Regions from separate parts of the Homo sapiens genome. Here region 2 is linked to region 1. The links come from fine-mapping of genetic effects on gene expression. Tissue or cell type: stomach. Region 1 holds a variant in brackets; the other region holds the start of a gene. All regions are shown on one strand. Distances are from middle to middle.

Region 1 (2,751 bases):
GGCTGGAATCACGAACATGGAAGGCCCGTCTGCCTTTTCCGCTTCAGACTGCAACAGGGCTTTGCTCCAAAGTGCTGGGAAACGGCAGTTCCACTACTAGACAGGTCTGCACCCCAGAGAAATGTGTGTGCGCGTGCACCAAAAACACACGAGAACGCTCACAGCAACCTTATCCCTTCTAGCCCCAGACGAGTGCCCATCAACAGCAGAAGGGGTAGATAAAGCGGGGCTCACCCTCGCAGTGACCTGAACACGGCAGCGAGAGCACACTGCGTGGATGACACACAGCGCCGCGTGGAAGACGCTAAGCTCCGGGAGCCCGCGGTGTGATCCCCTCGCCCCAAAGCGGCGCAAGGGCCCCAGGCGCCAGGCCCTGCGGGGCCCGGGCAGCGCGCGACGCGCTGTCTCTCCACCTGGGGACGGCTGTCCGGCGAAGCCAGTAAAGCTCAGTAAGCTGTAGCTCAGGGGGCACGTCAGGACGCGCACTCCACGCCAAAAAGTTAAAAGAGGTCTGCGCCAGGGAGGCGCGCGGGCGGGAGACCTCGACTCTCAAAGCGCCTCCTCCAGGCTCTCCGCCGCGTCCTCTGGGGCTGGGGCGGAATCCTCGCATCCCCGCCGGGTCTCCCTCCAGGCCGCCGGGCTCCGAGCGGAAGGGCCGCTTCCATGGAGACGGCTTTTTTGAGCTCGGACAAAGCACTCTGGCTGCGGCGAAGGGCCGCGGCCGCCGGGCGGCGCCTTCCGAGGGCGCAGGGCGGACGCGGAGGCCCGAGAAGGCGCGGGGAGGGTGGGGAGGGTGGGGAGGCGAGAGGCCGGGCCTCCGCGTTCCCGTTCGCTGCGGGACAAAGCTCCCTGTCCTGTCCCTTCCTGGGGGCGCCCCTGCCGTGAGAAGCAGAGCCGGCGGTGGGGCCCAGCCCCTCCCAAGGGCGACTCCCCCACCCTCCACAGGCCGGGGCCTGAAGCCGTCACAGCGGGGTTCGCTGCTTCCCATTCAGGCTGTGATGGCCCGAGGCTCGGCGTGGTCTCGCTCTCTTCTCAATTAATCCATTTTAGGGGGACAGGCAATACATTTACATGGTTCAAACACAAAAATGATGGAAAAGTTAGCTTTGAAATACTTGCTTTCCCCCAGCCCTATCGACCCTGTTCTTCGGTGCCC[C/T]CTAAAGGCACCTTCTGCTCTTTATCTATCACAGGCTTATGCCAAATGCCAGCAAAAGAATGCAGCAGGGCCACTCCGCTTCTTTGTCACAGCAACCGGAGCCTAGGCTGCCCTTGTTGTGTACCCCTCCCCGCCTCCCTCCTTCCTTCCCTTCCTCCCGCCTTCTTGCTTTCCCTCCCTCCTCTCCTCCTTCCCTCCTTCCTTCCTTCTTCCTTCTCTCCCTCTTTCTTTCCTCCCTTCCTCATTCCTTCCTCCCTTCCTTCCCTCTTTCCTTCCTTCCTTCCTCCCTTCCTTCGTTCCTTCCTTCCCTCTCTCCTCCTCCCTCCCTCCTTCTTTCCTCCCTTCCTCCTTCCTTCTTTACTTCCTTCTTCCTTCCCTCCTTCCATCTTCCCTTCCTCCTTCCCTTCCACCCTTCCTCCTTCCTTCCCTCCTTCCATCTTCCCTTCCTCCTTCCCTTCCTCCCTCCCTTCCTCCCTTCCTTTCTTCTTCCTTCCTCCCTCCTTCTTCTCTCCTTCCTTCTTTCTTCCTTCCCTTCTCCCTCCTTTCCTTCCCTCCTTTCCTTCCTTCCTTCCTTCCGTCCTTCCTTCCTTCTTCACTCCCTCCCTTCCTCCCTTCCCCCTCTCCTTCCTTCCTCAGTCCCAGAGCCCTTTCCATAGGCCTGCACAGAGCTTTTTCATTCTTTCTGACATCCGCCTCAAGTGCTCCAAGGTGTACCCATGATCTTTTCAACGGACACCCTGTGGATAGGAACTTGGGCTGTGTGCTTGCCATTTTGTGCTCATACAGGTGTATCTATAGGGTCAATCTCCCCTGTTTTTGACATCCTGACCTACCGCCCGCTGACCCTCCAGCCCCACCATGGCAGTGTATCCAGTGTCAACTACCTGGAGACTTGCCAGGGCTATAAGTCTTGTGGCCCTGACTTCCTGGCTCAGCAGCCGTGAGTCTCTGCCTGCAGGGGACTCCTGCTGAGAGAGGACTTGACTGACCAGATCTGCCTCCTGGGCAGGCCCCTTAGATGGGACCTTGTGTGAGCCTTTGGTTTCCAAGGACCAAACCATGGAAGGCTCAGAGTGACTAAGAGGTTCAAAGACTCTTAGGCAGTGAGGCCCACAGGAGGTAGGAGCCCCCAGCGGTGTGATGTGGGAGCCGGGTCAGATGCAGAGGCGGAGGACGGGTGTGGATAGGGGCAGGCTGGAGGGGCTTAGCAGGGGGACCCCACACACTGGGCTGCCAGCCTGCAGCCTCCAGGGCCAAGTGTGAGGCCTGTGGGTGTGGGGGTCCTGTGTGTAAGGCCTTTGACTTCACCTGTGTGAGAAATGAATATCTCAGCCAGTGGGTGAGCTCTGTGTCCCACCCAAGCATGAAGCCCACTTTCTAATCTTCATGTGAACTTCATGATCCATGATGGAAGCTGATCATGATGGAAGCTGCCTGTGACACCTTATTCCTATCAGTATCCAATCAGTATCTGTCAAGCACTGTGGGAGGCTGTGCAGTTATTCCCAAGTTGTTCCCTGGAGACGGAGCTTCCCGGCCCTCGTGACTCAGTCTCTGCCACGGGCAATGAGCAGTGTGGCAGATGTGGCAGCTCC
Region 2 (2,751 bases), 32 kb after region 1:
TCCACAGATATGAGGGACAGCAGGGAGACCTGCAGGCTGGAGCCTAAAGAACAAGGGGACAGTGCCTGAAAGTAGGCTAAGTGGATCAGCAGGCACAGGCCACCTCAATCCTGGGTGCCCATACTGGCTTATGTGAGCAAAATACATGCATTAAGCCATTCAACAAACATTTATTTAGCAACTGCTACAAGCCATCACTGTGTATTGGGGATACAACAGTGAATACATCTCACAAATTTCCTGTCCTCAAAGAGCTTACAGTCTAGTGGGAGAGACAGACAATGAACAAACAAAGAAACAAGGAAATATCAGATATACAGTTAAGTGCTGTGAAGGAAATAGAACAGGGTGATGTGGCAGGGAGTGGCTGAGGGACTTCCTTAGTTTGTGTGACCTGGAACAGCCTCTCTAAGGCTCTGCATCAGATATCTGATATGTGATACCATATGGGAGCAGGCTCTGAAAGAACACTACAAGTAGAGAGGTAAAGGCAGGGGCTGCAGCAAGCCTGATGTGTTCAGGCACTGAGCAGAGAGAGGGCCAGGTGGTCGGGACTTAGCGAGAGGGTCGCCTCAAAAGAAGTGAGGCTTAGCAGGGCACGGAGCAGTGCGGCCGCAGGTGTGGTGGGAAGGGTGTTCCAGGAGAAGGAGCCACCTGGACACAGGCTTGCAGTCATGAAACAATACGCAATTATCACTCCCGGCATTCTACATGGCCTTGCCTGAGACCGGGCTGGCCAGGATCTCTGGGAACCAGGAGGAGGGGTCTGCGGCACCAGGACTGAGTAGAAGGGAGAGAGTGGAGAAGGGGAATTGCAGAGAGAAAACCAGGGGCTGTTTTTCTCTCGGAGAGGCGGGTAGGCACTGGGCGGGCAGAAGCGCCGCTATCCACCCGGATGCGCAGCTGCTAAGGGGCCGCCTCTGCAAGCGGCTGCAAATTCCCGGAGGGCAGCGTCTCCTTTCGCTCTGCTGTGTCCGTAGCACATGGCAGGTACTTGGCCCATCAAGAGTGAGAGAGGGTGAGCGAGTGAGTGAGTCACCGGCTTGGCGAGGGTCTCCTCTGACCCACTTAGCCTTGCCAGCGCTCAGAACTGCCAGCCCTGCTGGGTGCTTGGGACTTTTCAAAGCCCTGGGAATTCTCCAAGGGTCCACAGTAAGTCTTCTTGACCTAAGCGGGAAAGAGCGCAGGCCCCTGCGGGGTTGGCTTTTACATGGCATTTATAGACCCGCCCGGAGAGGGTGCGCTGCGCTCCCGCCATAGTCCCACCACCGGTGAGCGCCGCCCCCACTCGGCTGACTCTCCGCCCGCCCCGCGCCCCTCCCCTCACGGGCTCTGGCCTTAACCAGAGCTCGCGGACTGGCGGGGACAGGTCCCACCTCCTGGCTCCCAGGACGGGTCTGCACCAACCTCAGTTTCGGGGCTGCGGCTCACAGAAGTCTAACCTGCCCGGGACGCCCGCACCAACTCCTGCGCGCGGTGAGTTTCTGGGCTCTCGAGAGCGCTGGACTCCCGGCGGAAAGGAGGCTGCCCCGGCTGCAGCTCCGGGGGCTCCGGGGGCTCCAGGGGCTCCAGGACTCGGTTCTCACCGCAAGGGCTCCTGCGGGGCCCATCAACTTCGCCGCTGGGACGCCGGGCTCGGGGTACGGGTCCGGAGTTCTTTGGAGCAATTGAGGCTGAACCTGGCCAGGGGTCATCAGGCTAAATGACCGCAGCGCCAGGACTGGCCCGCCGAGGATCTGGCCGGCCGCGGTGGTAGGGCCCTTACGGAGCTGGCGCCAACCTGTGGGGTGGGCACTGCTGGCCCGGCTTATGGAAGAGAAAACTGAGGCTCGATAAGAGAAAGGGACCAGCGAAGGCGACGCGATGATTTGTGACTGGGGACTACCTGTTTCCTGGGCCCCTCGACCCCATTCTGTGACAGGGAAAGGTCTTCCCTGATTGGCCAAATCTGGGGGCCTGGCACGAGGGCCTCTTGTGATTGGAGGGGTCGACGTGAGCGCTCAGGGGCTGCGCTGGAGTCCCAGCTCCAGCCACTGCGCTCAAGTGGACGGTCGCGCGTGCAGAGGGAGGCCGGATAGCAGACCCCACAACGTGGCTCCTGGGGCCCCGCTATCGAGAGCTCAGGCCCCGCGGGCACTTGCCTAGGAGAGGAAAGAATCTTCCCAAAGTGCAGACAGAGACGGAATTTAATCAGGAGTCCCAGACTTGGAGTTTGGAGGCATGGGCTCTGGTGTCAGGTGACTTTGTTTCCTCCCCACGCCTCCACTTCTCCTTGACCTTGGGCAAGTTTCTTGTGTTCTGAATCTTAGTTTCTTGTCTCTAAAATCGGGAGGGGCAATGAACAGTAGTGCCTGCCTCCCAAGATTGCTTGAGAATTACATGAGACTGCCCCGCGCCTGGCCCTAGGAAACCCTCGGAGAATGTTGGCTGCTGTTTGTTTGTTTGTTTGTTTGAGACAGAGTCTCGCTCTGTCGCCCAGGCTGGAGTGCAGTGGCACGATCTCGGCTCACTGCAACCTCCGCCTCCCGGGTTCAAGTGATTCTCCCGCCTCAGCCTCCCGAGTGCTAGAACTGCATTCATGGGCCCCAGGGCCCTAGCACCAGAACAGAGGGCCCAGAGCTGCAGTCCTGCAGGGTGGCCCAGCCTCACAGGGACTAGAAGCTGGGTCCTGGAGAGCCAAGCCTGGGCTGGGAATTGGGTAGGAGGGTTGGGAGGCCCAGGAAGCCTCCCAGTGTCCCCACACCACCAAGT

The links. PIP is the estimated chance that this variant, and not a neighbour inherited with it, causes the effect.
Region 2: it holds the start of ALDH1L1, and the variant in region 1 is fine-mapped to the expression of ALDH1L1 in stomach (GTEx, PIP 0.93).

Annotation. Positions count from the first base shown.
Region 1 is chr3:126,211,166-126,213,916 of GRCh38, reverse strand. LOC124909426 (a long non-coding RNA gene) reads right to left here and starts at 885. Exons shown (of 3, transcript XR_007096060.1): 1 at 1-885. RefSeq lists an enhancer at 1-410. The variant C/T (reference allele first, on the strand shown) is at 1,157.
Region 2 is chr3:126,179,201-126,181,951 of GRCh38, reverse strand. ALDH1L1 (aldehyde dehydrogenase 1 family member L1) reads left to right here and starts at 1,366. Exons shown (of 23, transcript NM_012190.4): 1 at 1,366-1,476. It overlaps ALDH1L1-AS2 (ALDH1L1 antisense RNA 2), which reads right to left and starts at 1,887. Exons shown (of 2, transcript NR_046383.1): 1 at 1,408-1,887. RefSeq lists enhancers at 197-950, 951-1,706.